Linked DNA regions of Homo sapiens: region 2 is linked to region 1. A link means that fine-mapping ties the variant in region 1 to the expression of a gene that starts in the linked region. Tissue or cell type: whole blood. Region 1 holds a variant in brackets; the other region holds the start of a gene. All regions are shown on one strand. Distances are between the middles of the regions.

The links. PIP is the estimated chance that this variant, and not a neighbour inherited with it, causes the effect.
Region 2: FKBP1B starts here. The variant in region 1 is fine-mapped to the expression of FKBP1B in whole blood (INTERVAL, PIP above 0.99).

What each region holds. Positions count from the first base shown.
Region 1 is chr2:23,813,635-23,821,740 of GRCh38, forward strand. It overlaps ATAD2B (ATPase family AAA domain containing 2B), which reads right to left. Exons shown (of 28, transcript NM_017552.4): 17 at 6,113-6,248. Among named protein-coding and RNA genes, the nearest start is that of ATAD2B, 110 kb to the right of the region's middle. The variant T/TAC (reference allele first, on the strand shown) is at 4,489.
Region 2 is chr2:24,045,995-24,054,083 of GRCh38, forward strand. FKBP1B (FKBP prolyl isomerase 1B) reads left to right here and starts at 3,747. Exons shown (of 4, transcript NM_004116.5): 1 at 3,747-3,892; 2 at 7,908-7,955. The coding sequence starts at 3,856. It overlaps WDCP (WD repeat and coiled coil containing), which reads right to left and starts at 1,397. Exons shown (of 4, transcript NM_025203.3): 1 at 1,320-1,397. RefSeq lists silencers at 3,609-3,908, 7,845-8,036.

The DNA.
Region 1 (8,106 bases):
ACCAGGAGGCTGAGGTAGGAGGATCACATGTGTCCAGGAGGTCAAGGCTGCAGTGAGCCATGATGGTGCCACTGCATCCCAGCCTGGGTGACAGAATGAGACCTTGTCTCAAAAATAAAATAAAATAAAAGGAAGAGAAATGGATAATAAAATAAATGTTTAAAAACGGAGGATTCAGGTCATTTCACAGCATAAACAAAATGAATTCTAACACAAAATTTAAATTAAAAGATTCATTTATTTTTAATTCATAATAATCTAAAAACCTCTGTAACCCAAAAATTATAATCTGAACCAAATAGCAAACAACCAAATGGCATAAAGAATTTGCTACAGAGCAGGGCACGGTCGAACATGCCTGTAATCCCAGCTACTTGGGAGGCTGAGTTGGGAGGCTCACTTGAGCTCAGGAGTTCAAGACTACCCTGGGCGACATAGACATCCTATCTCAGAAACAAAATTATTGAAAAAACATAAAAAGAAAATTTAATAAAAAGAATTTGTCATAAACAGGAATGGTTCTTAATGTATAAAGAGTTTATATGCATAGTTTTCAAAAACCTCCATGGGCAAAGGACGTAAAACAAGACAATTCAAAGAGAAAATAGAAATAGGAAACTTTTTAAAATGTTTATTTAATTATATAACTATAGAATGCCTCCTATGCTGAATGCCTTAGCCCTAAGTATCAAACAATACCAGTGTTATCATAGAGCTCATAACTGAGTGGTATTTAGTAAAAAAGTTAATATACAAATTACCATAGTTCAATGTGATTAATAAGGGGTACTGTTTAAGTACACAGTGCTATGGAAGATACCAATTAGAGACTCATAGAAGGCATTCCTGGAAAAGTGTTACCAAGGCAGAAACCCAAAAGATTGGAGGTACAAGAGATGAATTCCAAGACTGCAAACAGGATGTGCAAAGGACCAACAGTTAAAAAGAACATGGCTCTTTGGGGTAACTAATACAGTTCATACAGCCAGTTTTGGTTTTGTTTGTTTGTTTTGAAGTACTGGGGACAAGTTGTGGAGGGTACAGTAAAGGTACTAGGGTGGGGAGAGAAAAAAGAAGGTAAGTTAGACTATGAAGGGCTACAAAGGGTTTTGTAAGCCACGTTAAAAGTTTGGAATGTGGCCTGGCGCAGTGTCTCACACCTGTAATCCCAGCACTTTGGGAGGCCAAGGCGGGCAGATCATGAGGTCAAGAGATCGAGACCATCCTGGCCAACATGGTGAAACCCTGACTCTACTAAAAATACAAAAAAAATTAGCCAGGCGTGGTGGCAGGCACCTGTAATCCCAGCAACTTGGGAGGCTGAGGCAGGAGAATCACTTGAACCTGGGAGGTGGAGGTTGCAGTGAGCTGAGATCACACCATTGCACTCCAGCCTGGGCAAAAAGAATGAAATCCGTCTCCAAAAAAAAAAAAAAAAAGTTTGGAATGTGTACTGAAGACAATGGGGAAGCATTAAGATACTTTAGAGGAACAAGATAATCATATACATGTTTAGGGAAGATAACTCTATCTCAGCATTGTCAGTATGGGAAAGGGTTTTGAAAGAAGGCAAATGAGAGGAAAGATAATCAGGCATCTGCTATAGTAACCCAGGCATGACATGTGAATGACAGTTCAACAAGAATAGTGTTAGAGAAAGAAGGAATAGCCTGCGATGAGACTTACTTAGTAAGAAAAATCAGAAAGACTTGGTCATTGACTAGACAAAGAAAGAAATAAAAGGAAAGAAGTTGAGAATGATGTCAAATTCTAGCTGAGACAACTGAATGAATGATGGCTCATAGGAGTCACAGGAAGAGAAGGGGCGTATGATACAGTCCAGCTATGTACGGAAAGATCCATGGTACAACAAAGGGGAGATGGGCCACTGGTCAGGGTCTGAAGCTCAAGAGCAATCTAGGCTTGAGAACAAAATGGTAGTCATTAACACAGAGATTTTTAAAAAATGAGAAAATATAAATGAAAATAATGATGGACATCTTTTATCTGTTAGATTAATAAACCAAAAATTAATTGTAATGCCCATTATCAATGAGAGGATGGCAAAATTGATATCCTCACAACTAGTGGAAGAAAAGCACAACTTTTCTGAAATTATATGTGATAGATCTAAATATGCCAAAATGTATGCCCAAAAGTATTCAATAACTCACTCCACTCCTAGGGATTCCCCAGCCTCTTACTATCTTCTACATTTTTTCCCCATAGTACTTATCTTCTAACAGTTTATCTATCTAGCAAGCTATTACATTTATTATTTTACTGAATGTCTCCTCTGTTTAAAAATATAAGTTAAATGAGGGCCAGGATCTTACCCTATTTTGTTCACTGACCTACCCCAACTACCCAGGACAATGTCTGGAACATGATGGGCACTTTTACAAAACATTTGAATGAGTGAATGAATATATGAAAGAACAAATGAACAAGTCAACTAAACAAAAAGATATTATATTCATCTATCTGGTTTGTAAAGATTTTAAAAGACAGTGCTCAGAATTGACAATGGTATAAGAAAAATACTACTCTCATACATTAGTATGAGAAATGTAAACTAGTACAAGCCTTCTGGAAAGCAATTTAACAATCTGTGTCAACATGTTAAATGTATACACTCTTTGACACAGCAATTGCAGTTCTTAAAATTTACCTTATGCTTTGAATCAGATAGTGGTGTAAAGATGTATACTTAGAAACAAGTCTATTGTTCATAAAAGAAGAAACTTGAAAACTTCAAATTTTACCAATAAGGGTCTATAAATTATGGAATATCCAAAGTGTAAGATAATATGCAGCTATCTTAAAACAGTCATATTAAACATACACTGACATGAAATAATATTCCCAACATAGTGGATGAAAAAGTAAGTTATATTAACAACTTATAGGAGGATATAATCCAGATAATGTATGGGTCTATACATTATACATGCATAGAGAGGACATGGAAGTGTGGTCACCAAAACTTTAACAAATATTACCTGCAGGTGCTGGGGCTTTAATTTTTACTTTCTTCTTTATGCTCTTCTTTATTACTTGAATTTTCTACAGTGTATATCATCTTTCTAATCAGAAAAAACAAAGCTATTTTCATTTGAAAAACCTCAGAAAATTCTGTTTCTAGTCACCCTTATGGTAATATAAAGTAAGAAAGAAAATTTATTTTCCATCATAAAGCTTCTCTACCAGATTGGTAAACCTTAACTATCTTGACTTCTCCTTTATATTAAATGTAAAAAAGAAAAGGTTTCAACATTGTTTCAGGAGACTATTCCCAGAAATTCACCAGCAATACCCAGGCTAGTGTGACTGAAAACCAGCACTAAAGTTATGCTTTATTCTGGCCGAGCACCTTTTCTTCTGCATTGATCTGTAATGCTAACGTATCTTGCTCAAACAGAAAACTAAACCAACCAAACAAAAAAGACTATATGTTGCCCATACTAAAGGCCTTAATTCTAAAGTGTATGCTTCTTGGAGAGTGTGAAATATATGGCTTAACTTACCTAAAGAAGCAATGCAATTCCCTAGCTACTTATTAAGCTCAGAAATAACTTGGAAAAATATGGTCTTAGGAAACAGCACAGAGTCTGGCTCTGCCACCTGCTAGCAACAGGATCATGGGCAATTTATTTAACTTCTGTGTGCTTCACTTTCCTCATCTATAAAATGAAGATACCACAAATGCAATATGATTGTTAAGGGGCCTATATATATTACTGAATATGAAGCACAGATCTTTACATACCAAGCAAGTATCTAATTTGTAAAAAGCACTCAGATGCAAACTCCCATCCCTTCATAATGAAAAGGACAGCAAATATCACTACTTCTCCTGTGAAACCTTCCCAGACTTCCAGCAGAATTAGTTCTGCTTTCACAGCACTTTCGCCATATTGAAATGTTTGTCACCCCCAACCATGAGACCTTCTCCAAAGTAAGAACTATGTTATATCTTATTCATGCTTATGTTTTCAGCATCTCATACAATGCCTGGCATAGGGTAAACAAAGAAAAATTGGACAAATGGGTAGGTGAATAAAGAAATAAGTGAATAATTATTATTAAAACATCTAAAAAATGCTTATTCTAGCATATAGCTGTCTCATTATTTAATCAAAGTCAAATGAATGAACTAGAAAAGCTTATGTAAAGGAAGCTAAAATTAAACCAATTCTTTCAGAAAAGCTAAAACAAAATGAGCCATACCAATGTTTCACATTAAATCAGTGGCAGGAAATGTCCTCAATAAAAAGTCAAACTTAACACTGTACATGATACTTTCTAATATCAAAATCTATTTCTGTATTCCTTTATTGACGACAATTATCTTATAAAATTAAACACGTCTTTTGATACTTACTTAGTTTCTGCTACTACATAATACAAATCCAAATAACTATAACTGTCAAACACACATAAACACACACACACACACATTACACACACACACACACACACACACAT[T/TAC]ACACACACACACACACACAGAGAGAGAGAAGGAGGGAGGGAAGAAGAGAGGGAGAGGGAGAGACGGAGGGAGGGAAGAAGAGAGGGAGAGGGAGGGAGGGAAGAAGAGAGGGAGGGAGGGAGGGAAGAAGAGAGGGAGACGGAGGGAGGGAGGGAAGAAGAGAGGGAGGGGGGAGAGAGAGAGAGAGAAAGAGAGAGAGACAGAGAGACACAGACGCACAGGCTAGCCAGGTGAAAAGCAAAAAAAAAAAAAAAAAAAAAAAAATTGGCTTTCCCATAACTATCAATAAAACAAATCTGTAAAATGCTGGAATAGCCTATAAAAAAACTTCCCCAAGAGCATAAAAGAAAGGATCTGGAGAAGAAGAAAAAAACTTACAAAGAGTTTGCTATTAAAGAACATATGAAGAAAAAAAGAGGAGATGAAAGTAATTTAGGCTCATTTTTAAAAATGAAAAACAAGAAAGGGTTATCAATGCAAATAATCAAATCAACATTTCACCAAAATCTACATGGGAAAACTTCAAGTTGGAGACTTAAATTTGTTCAAAATATTAAAAGTACACACAATCCGGCCTCTTCTAATAGAAGTGCTATTAGATCTACCTGACTGAAGCTTTATGGTCCTTCAACTATGGGGCTAATTATGTAAATGCAAGTAAAGATGCTGTTAGTATTTGAAAACTATTTGGCCTCTTAATTTAAAATTACATTTGCACTAAAAGTGTTTACCTATTATAGTGCACAGCAAAACTTGCTTTAACACAGATAATAAAAGGGTAAATGTAAATTGAAAAATCATAAAATCCAAATTATGCAAGTATAATGTTTCTAGAAAATCAAAAAGTTATTTAATTACTGAACAATTTCTAAATCGAAATCTCTTTAGCAGCCTTAGAGACCTAAATGATCATCTAAAGTTTATTACAAATTAAAGTATTCCAGATCATGGCAAATATTTCATTTCTGCCCATTTTAGTTTAAAGAAAAAGCAATAAAGTTGGGGCTCATGAGTTGACTTTCTAAGGGTAAGCTTTCCTCTGCCTCCATGGGGGAAAAAATTTACACCATTACTTTAAAAAAAAGTAAACTTAGCCAGGTACAGTGGCATACGCCTATAATCCCAGCACTTCGGGAGTCCAAAGCGGGAAGAGCACCTGAGATTCGAGACCAGCCTGGACAACATAGTGAAACCCCATCTCTACTAAAAATGCAAAAATTAGCTGGGCGTGGTAGCGCACACCTGTAATCCCAACTACTCAGGAGGCTGAGGTACGAGAATAGCTTAAACTCAGGAGGCAGAGGTTGCAGTGAGCCAAGATCATGCCACTGCACTCTACCCTGGGTGACAGAGTGAGACTCTGCCTCCCAAAAAAAAAAAAAAAAGTAAAGTAGCAGGAAAGATTCTTCTACTTGGAGAAAAAAACACCTAGGTAGTTAACCAACAAACTAACTATTACCACATGAAAAAGAATACATAGTAAAAGTTTTCCAGAATTGTGTCCAAACAACAGAAAAACAATATCCTCACAGTTATAACCATAAGTAAAAATATACCATAATTCTAATCATAAAGTATCAAAAATCACTCTAAATACAAAGAAAGTTGATATAAATCACTCACATTGTAAAATGAAGGTAGGGTTTATGTATAGCAGCAGATGATGACTGTTTCTTTGGTGATCCTGAGTGACAATTGGTCTCAAAAATTGATAAAGCATTTTCATCTTCACTATCCTCTAAAATTAAAGTTTCTATATCTGTTTAAAAAAATCACAATGGTTATGGGGCTTATAAAGTCATTTAATATTCGTGCCCTACCAAAGCTAAGAAAAATTGGGTTAAAAAATCAAATGACATTAATAAGTTATCTATCAAATAATACAGGCAAACTGACAAACTGCAGCTTTTAAAATAACTTATAAACAAAATTAATATAACACTTTCACCTTTACAGACTATTTACTTAAGTGTTATGAGATATAATTTGGAAGAACTCACTGACTGGCTTAAAAAAAAAAAACAAGTCTGGAAAAGATGTGGCACTCTCATAAAATCCCACCTATTTAACTAAAAATCTCTGAGTTAATTTTGACCAAAACCAGTCCATTTCATATTTGGTTTAATTAGTAGGTTAGCTGAGTCAAGGCCAGTTCTTATAAAAGCAACAAGGAACAAACTGACCCTTATTTTTTAAAGAGGATACACCTTTTCAAAGAAGTCTTAGTGTAGTTAAGATGGAGTCAGAAATTCCGTCAAAGCTAATCTTAAAAATACACTCATTCATACAGCATTATTCTCTCTGTGGGCCTTAGGTTATCACTCAGGGAACTAACTGGAACTAAAATCTCTACTGAGAATGCAACACTTAAAGCCTTACCTGGACTACCACCTGAAGTATGAACAGCTGTTGCTATACTTCAAACATGCCTAATTAAAACTGACAATTCATTCAATAAAAAGCAATGCTACATGTGTACGGGATATGAGAGAGAATTAAGATTAAGAGAAATCATATCCTTTCAAAATAAAAAATATACAGATGCATTCTAAAATGAGATGCTAAATTATGCTAGCAGATAGAGATCTCAAGTGGCTTTTAAAAGCTAAACATTTAATCGAGACCATCCTGGCTAACATGGTGAAACTCTTGTCTCTACTAAAAATACAAAAAAATTAGCCGGGCGTGGTGGCAGGCGCCTCGTAGTCCCAGCTACTCGGGAGGCTGAGGCAGAAGAATGGTGTGAACCCAGGAGGCGGAGCTTGCAGTGAGCCAAGATTGCGCCACTGCACTCCAGCCTTGGTGACAGAGCCAGACTCCGTCTCAAAACAAAAAAAAAGCTAAATATTTAGTACAAGTCATAGTTTAATCTGGGAAATAACTGAGTATCTTTTGAGTGATAATTTCATACACAAGGAAATATTTATCTAAGAAAAATATTAAAGGTCAAAACAAGCCAGAATAAATATGACTAAATAGCTAAAAACCAATTATTGATAATCAAATAAAATTTGGTTGCTCTTCTCCACTGGTTCATGGCAACTAGTTCTACCAACTGGAACTAAAGCATACTTTATATTTACACACAAAAAAAGCTATAAGAAAACATAGATAATAATGCTATAAAATGGTAATTCACAAATGGAGATAAAAAGCTATGATAATCTCTCCAAAGGAAAGATGAGGTTTTTATGATTTTCTAAAGGTGACGTAAGTTTTTTGGGACGTTTTGGTACATAACATATATATGAAATACATTTCCAGTTATGAAATTCAGAAATAAAAAATACACAAATCATGGCATCGTGCCTGGCTCACAGATATTCAGTAAAATATTCATTCCCCTCTGTCTGCCAAATTTAAGAAATCAGGTATTCCATGTGGTATCTTATGTGAGTCTGTCACTAAACAATTAAAGTTTCTGAAAAATATATTTATGACAGAAGAATTCATTGAACAATATTCATAATTTTTACTATATATATTTTTAATGTTAGTATAATTCTCTGAATAATTTTCTATTTGGTGCAGACTGCATTCCAGACAAGGTGCTAGGAACTGCAGAAATTAAGATAATCAAAAGACATTACTTTCCCTTCAAAGTTTATGAGCTTTAT
Region 2 (8,089 bases), 230 kb after region 1:
ACCTGCAGTCCTAGTTACTATGGAGGCTGAGAGGATTTGAGCTCAGGAGTTCAAGGTTACAGTAAGCTATGATCACACCACTGCATTCCAGCCTGGGTGACAGAGTGAGACCCTGTTGGGGAGGTGGGGGTGGGGGCAGTAGGGGAGGAACGTGTGTAGTATGTGACAAATTGAAATTAACATGTGCTTCATGTAAGATGTCTACATGGTACCAATGTACCTTAGGCAGTCAGAGGTAAGGATTTGGAAATCACTGACATAGGGTTAATCATTAAAGTCAAGGTAGTGGAGAACCTCACTGTATAAGATCAGAGGGCCAGGAGGACCAAGGTTTAAATGCTCTTCAGGCATTCCCCAACGCTACTGATTTTGCCTGAAACTAATTGTATACCTATTGTTTCACAATCTCCAGAGTATAAGTTTTTTGGAGAACATGAAATCAAGAACCCTGGGTGTTTTAGGAGGGAAAAGACCACTGTATTAGTTCAGGTCTCCGGAGAGGTGGTCAGAAAACTAAGAGCCGGTGCTCAGTATATAACCATTTAATTCTGTTTTTCATCTTCTTTAAAGACAACTCATGACGAGAATCAAGGGATTCAGGTGAACTGGCATTTCCAGCAGGTTTAAACAAAAGTACATCCCTCCCCCAACTTGTTTTCCAAGTTTATTGTATTTCCACTATAAAATGATTTCAAGTTCTTTACACTTATTTGGAAACAAAAATCATACACAAGAAAAAAATTAAGAAGAGTTAACGAAAAAACATTCATCCAAAGAAAATTATGACTAATCCCTCTAGACTCTTCTATGCATAGTTTGGCTGTCAAACTTTTTCAGTTATACTGTGCAACTTTGTATCACGGTTTTCATCTAACATTATATATTAGCATTTCCCTATGTTATTTAAAAGTTTAATAAATTAGTTTTAGAGGCCACTTCACATACACTCAGTGAAGTGACATAATGTACTGAACTGCTCCTAGCTGTACCCAACTTTATCCCGCTACCCGCTATAAATAAAGCTCGGACCGAGGTCTTAAGGCTTAAAGCATTTCCTGACTTTGGATGACTTCCTTGGGACATATTCCCAGGAGTGTTATTCACGAGTCACGGTCATAATCCCTCATTTACACCCACCCCTAGCTCGATCCTCATCCCGCGACCCCTCACACGCGGCCCGCCCCATTCTCCTCATCCTCTCTGCACGCCTGAATCTCCTCCTTCCCGCCCCCTACCCACCAAGAGCCGATCCACTTCCCTCCTGACCCCCTACAGCCTCCCCACACCCGCCAGGCCCGGCAGCAGTGGAGATGAAATACCTTAGGTCTCACTGCCTCACAAAAACACCAATCTCTCTGTGGCCGCCCAACATCACGCCGCCGCACATAAGAAGTTCTGGGCAGCCACCGGAAGCACCGGCCCTCAGTCCTCTGATAGGTGGGCGGTGATATCGGTCCTCTGATAGGTGGGTGGTCCTCTGATAGGATAGGCACGCTCCGAGATGGCCCCGTCTATTGGCTTTTGAATATGCACATTAGCAGAGGGTTCGTCCCACTGGCCAATAAGCTCTGGCTCTGCCGCACGGATCGCTGGGAGTGGTAGTCCCCGTAAAACCACCGACCGCAAGCCCGCCACATTTTCCCTCCCTTAAGCACTTGAGCTCTTTCCCCACTTCTCGTCGGTTCTCTTGTCTAAGGAGTCCAGGAGCCCTAGGATCACCACGGCTTTTTAACCTTCTTTAAAATCTGATAAAATCTCTCAGGAAAATGTTCTTATCTGTACACAAAATACTGTGCATTGAGCTGAAGCCGCTGCATGGGCCTGTCCCAGCTACAAATCCCTGTTCTACCCCGACCCTAAGCGTGCCTGCTCTGGCCGCAGCCTATGGATTTAGTGCGTCCCTTAGGCTTCTTCAGACCTATGAGGAATTCCAGGTCCTGACCCTCACAGTACAGTCGACAATCATCTTTCTTTAACAACACAGCCAGAACACCTTCAGGGATGCAGACAACCTCATCTGGGACCTAAGCATCCGGGAGAGTGGGGATGAGGAAATGGAGGAAGAACACCCTTGGGGCTCATTCTGGACCAGTTTGCCAGGCTTTTCTCCCCATGCCTATCTTCCAGTGCCACTCAGGAGAATCATATCTTCACATCAGTTTTTATGTTTTTCTTTTTCTTTTCTTTTCTTTTTTTAAAAATAAAGATGGCATGCCTGTAATCCCAGCACTTTGGGAGGCTGAGGCGGGCGGATAACCTGAGGTCGGGAGTTCGAGACCAGCCTGGCCAACATGGTGAAACCCTGTCTCTACTAAAAATTTAAAAATTAGCCGAACGCTGGTGTCTCACGCCTGTAATCCCAGCTACTTGGGAGACTGAGGCACGAGAATCGCTTGAACCTGGGAGGCGGAGGTTGCAGTGAGCCGAGATTGTGCCACTGCACTCCATCCTGGCGACAGAGTGAAGATTCTGTCTCAAAAAAAAAAAAAAAAAAAAGGAGAGAGAGAGAGACGGGATCTCGCTATGTTACCCAGGCTGGTCTTGAACTTCTAGGCTCAAGCAATCCTCCTGCCTCGGTCTCCTACAGTGTTGAGATTACAGGTGTGAGCCATTGTTCCAAAAATTGATATACTTGGCCTCACATCAATTTTTGGAACAATGCAGGTAATAATGAGGGGGAAAAAATTTTAAAAGTCCCAATTACCCTTTAAACAAATATTACCTCCTCCAAAAAATATTTTTCTAGATTCCTGAATGTATTTTTTGGTGGAGGAGGAACTCAAAGTAGAATTCATTTACATATTCATTCATTCATTCCACAGCACTAATCACTCCATGCAGTAACTGTGTGTCCCCGTCCCTCTCAGACTTAGTACCTGGAAGACAGCCAACCTGTCTTAATTCTATTGGTATCCCCAGGGCGCATTTCTTTGCCTTGAAAATTGAGTACCCAATAAATGTGCGTCGAGCAGAACTACACGAGATGGAGAACAGGGGTTTAGGGGTATGGGGGAGAGTCAGCAATTACTGGTGTCCTCCCTCCCTCCCCCAGCTCTGCTCCTACAGATCCAGGACGCCTAGCGAGGGTAGGAACCTCTTCTGTGCTTCCGCAACGCTCTGAACTGCACGGCACTGAGCGCATCTAATTAAAGTGATGGTTTCATTAGATAGCAACACAGCGAGACCCCGTTTCTACAAAAAATAAAAATAAAAAATAAAAGATTAGCTGGGCGTGGTTGCTCGCGCCTCTAGTCCCAGCTACTTGGGTGGAGGCTGAGGAAGAAGGATCGCTTGAGCCTAAGAGTTCGAGGTTGCTGTGAGCTATGATCGCGCCACTGGACTCCAGCCTGGGCGACAGAGCAAGATCCTCTGTCTAAAATAAAAATAAAAATAAAATGATGGTTTAATCGCCGGCCTTTGCCCCTTCTGCCCCCCACCCCCCACAAGTCTGTAGGACTGGGTTGACTTCCCAGAGCTTACTACAGATTAGATGCTAAATAAATGTCTATTGGACGGATGCGCGAATGAATGGATGGATGGAGGATGTGGTTGTGCTTACCACGCTCCCTGGTCAGTGGGTTAATGTCGTCAGGCGGGGCCAGGCTCGCTAACAGCCGGGCGGGGTCCCTTCCCCCGGGCCCCGCCCCGGCCGACCCCACCTTTCCGCGCGGCTCCGCCCCGCCGCCCCCTTGCCAGTGGCCCCTCCCCGCGCAGGTCCCGACTCCAGCCGCACCTCCTCCGGCTCTGCAGTGGCGGCGAGGAGGCGAGCCGGAGCGACGGCGGGGCTGGGGCCGGAGCCGAGCCGGGGTCGGGCAGCAGCAGGGACCCCCCAGAGGCGGGGCCTGTGGGACCGCTATGGGCGTGGAGATCGAGACCATCTCCCCCGGAGACGGTACCGGGCTCCCTCCGGAGCCAGGGGAGGGGAGGGGTCCCGGGGCGGAGCCCGGAGGGCGGGGGTCTGATTCGGAGGTGGCGTGGAGGGTGCTGAAGGGTCGGGGGGCTGGATGGGGAAGGCAGGCGGAGACGCCGGACGGGATTCTTGGGGGTCTAGGAGACCATCCTCCGCCATCCTCTTCCGCGCTCACCTAGGGGAATGTAGGCGGCAGCTCGGAGGCGGGGGTCTGCGGCCCGGAGGCGGGGGTCTGCGGCCCGCCACCGCCCCGGGCTTCTCCTGTCGCGGCTGCAGTCGTTCGGTTATCCGCTGCTGCTGATACCCCAGCCTGGGTTTCGGCTTCGCTTTCCCTGCCCTACTCGGCGAGCTCTGGAAAGCAGGACCTGCTCTCGGATACCCGCTGCTCGGGGACCTCCTCCTAGCGCGTCCCCCGCCGGGCCTCCCCTCGGTCGCTTCCCTGCGGGCCGGGCTGTGAGCGGCTGTGGGGACAGACCCAGGCTGGGGAAGGGGGAAGCGCTCCCTTGCCCGCTTCCGGATCTCGCTTTATCCTGCCGCCGCTTTCAGACTCCCTGGCCACCCTGTCCACTCCCATGGCCTCCACATTGAAGCTTCTAAGCCCAGCCCTGCGACCTACGGCCGAACCTCTCCCTGGACGTCCCAGGGTGCTCCCTGGTCAGCAAGTCCAAAACAGAACTCTCGCTTCCCACCTTCTCTCCTAAGTGATCCTCTTTATCCCCCTTCCGTGTCTCACTTTCCCAAGTCCTTGTATTACTGGGTCTGGGTGTGCAAGGAATAGCCATTTCTTTATTTCTTGAAATTTAATTAATACCAAAGCCCCCATTGTCTGCAGGGTTTGATGGGCAAACTTCATATCAGATATTATTAATATGAACAGCTCCCCTCCCCAGGAAATTGGATAACTTCTTGGCTCCAGGCCATCTTCCTTGTCCAATCCCAGCCACTACTTCAGATATCCCCTGGAGTACAGGCTTCTTTGCCCACGCAGGAAACATTGCTGCTGGGTCCCAGAAAGCATCTCCCTGAGGCCTTTTCATCCCTCAGCAGCCCCTGAGCTAATCTCCCCATCTTCAGTCTCTCCTCCCTGCTTTCAATCTCGTCCCCAATCTCATATTCACTCCCTTTCTATATCATAGCCTGAAGACTCTTCTTAAAATGCAGTGGCTCACGCCTGTAATCCCAGCACTTTGGGAGGCTGAGGCGGGCGGATCACAAGGTCAGGAGTTCGAGACCAGCCTGACCAACATGTTGAAACCCCGTCTCTACTAAAAATACAAAAATTAGCTGGGCATGGTGGTACGCACCTGTAATCCCAGCTACTCGGGAGGCTGGGGCAGGAGAATCACTTGACCCTGGGAGCCAGAGGTTGCAGTGAGCTGAGATTGTGCCATTGCACTCCAGCCTGGGTGACAGAGCAAGACTCTATCTCAAAAAAAAAAAAGAAAAAAAATGCATGTTTGACTATGCCCCTCCCTCAGGCAGAAGATGTTTTAATGATTCTTCCCTCTCCCCCAGGAGGGGCCTTTGGTGCTATGGTCTATTCTCATCTTCCACACTAGAGCTTCATCTCTCACCACCTGTCCTAAGCCCACCACTAACTTTTTCCTCCAGCTTTCCCAAGCTGCCTGCAAGTTGTCAAACACACCACTCGTTCAGCAAATATTTATTGAACGTGTGTGCTAGGCCCTAAGGTGACACAGTTGAAACAGACAGGGTTCCCGCTATTGCTGGACTGAGGGCCTTTGAACATGTTACATGTTGTTCCCTCTTCCCAGATGGTGTTTTTTCACTTCCTCTGGCAAACTCTTACTTGTCTTTCAAGACCTGGCTTCACCATTCTCTCCTCTATGATGTTTTCCTTGACTTCTGTGGTCAGTTAGCTGCTCCCTCCTCCAGGATCCCATAGAGTCCTCTAAATATCGGCTCTGTGGTTAGGCTTCCTTAGGCTTTGTATCCAGCCCCGTAGCTTTAAATTCCAGCCAAATTTATACCTCCAGTGCAGACTCTTCATCTGCCTACTTGCAATATAAACTCAGATGTCTAATAGGCATCTCAAGATTGCCACCCGCACAAATCTGTTCCTCCCGTCTTCCCTATCTCAGGAAATAGTTGCACTATTCATCCAGTTGCCCAAACAGAAAACCCAAGCATCGTTCTTGTTGTCTCCTTTGTCCTCATCCTGGACCCCATTTCCAGTCTGATTGCATGACCTGTCAGCTCCGCTTCGAAAATATGTCTCCAATCTTTCACTCTCTTCTCTGCTGCCACCACCTTAAATCAAGCTATCATTGATTTCTTGTCTGGATTATTGCAACAGACGCCTAACCGTCCATCCTACACATAGCAGCCAGAGTGATGTTATAAAATCTTAATTCAGATTATGTCATTCTCTGGCTTAAAACCCTCCAGTGGTTTCCTATTGCACTTAGTATTAAATCCGGCTCTTCAAGCCCTGCATGATCCATGTCCTTCCCACCTCTCTCCTCCCTCCCTTCTTTCCAGCACCTAGCCTCCTTGCTCACTGCAAATGTGTTGATTCTGTGCACTTGTTACTCCTTTCCCAAGTGCTATTTCCCAGTATTTTGCTCATCCTTCAAGTCCCAGCTCCAGGGGGCACCTTCTCCAAGAGGCCATCCTGGACCACTCTGTCTGAAATGGCCTGTCCCACTGCATCTCCCTTTAATACATCATTGTGTGTATTTTCTTTAGAGTATTCATCATAATCCATAATCATTTTGTATATTTAAGTATTGTCTCTGTCCATTAGAATATAAACTCCAGGGCGGGTTTGGTGGCTCATGCCTATAATCTCAGCACTTTGGGAGGTTGAGGTGGGAGAATCTCTTGAGCTCAGGAGTTCAAGGCCAACCTGGACAACATGTTAAGACCCTGTCTCTACAAATTTTTTTTAAAAAAATTAGCTGGGCATGGCAGCATGCACTTGCAGTACTAGCTACTCAGAAGGCAGAGGAAGAAAGATTGCTTGAGCCCAGGAAAGGTCAAGGCTGCACAGAGCCGAGATCATGCTGTTGCACTCCAGCCTGGGTGACACACTGAGACCCCTACTCTTAAAAAAAAAAAGTAAACTCTAAAAGAACAGGGATAGAGATCTTGTTTGTAGTGTTCACTGCTGTATCCCTGTGATCAGGCACAGGCTTGGCACACCATAGGTACTCAGTAAATATTTGTGGTTTTGTTTTGTTTTGTTTTGTCTGTTTGTTTATTGTGACAGGGTCTTGCTCTGTCACCCAGGGTAGAGTGCAGTAGCATGAACACAGCTCACTGCAGCCTTGACCTCCTGGGCTCAAACAATCCTTCCACTTCAGCTTCTTCAGTAGCTGGGACTATAGGTATGCGGCACCACACCCAGCTAATTGAAAAGATTTTTTTTTTTTTTTTTTTTTTTTAGAGATGGGGTCTCCCTATGTTACCCAGGGTGATCTAGAACTCCTGAGCTCAAGTGATCCTCCCACCTCAGCCTCCCAAAGTGCTGAGATTACAGATGTGAGCCACCATGCCTGGCCTCTCAGCAAATATTTGTAAATTATTGTGTTTATTCATCTTTGATGGATGGATTATAATCTGCATTGTAATCTGGTATTTGTGTGTCTGTTTCCCTACCTTCCTCATGAGTTCATACATTGCTCTGCATGTCTGAAGTCTGGTCCAGGCCTGGCACATAGGAGGCCAACTGTAAATGTCTGTGGAATGGATGATGTGAAGTAAAAGGGGCAATCAAAGAAAGTGGGGGTGGGGTGGTGGGAAAGCCCAGGAGACAGCAGAATTGAGAAAATTGAGGGGGTAAAGTAAATCCAGGCCAGAGAGGTGACGTGATTCATTCTGGCTCGTACAGGGCCCAGAGCCAGAACTAGGGCCACAGGCATCTCCATGGCATGGAGGGGAATGCAGGCTGGAGCTCTTGGTCAGGATCATACTTAATGTCCCAGGTGTTTTTCCAATATCCTACTCCTTCATCTGCCCTCATGTCTCCCTGCAGGAAGGACATTCCCCAAGAAGGGCCAAACGTGTGTGGTGCACTACACAGGTAAGTCTCACCCCCTCAGCCCCCACCCAGTCCTTCCCCTCCCAAGGCAGGGCTGTCCTCTGAGCTTCTCTCCAGAGGTGCCTGCCTCTGGATCAGGGCTAAAGCCCAAGGCAGCAGGGTCTCCCTGTGACCAG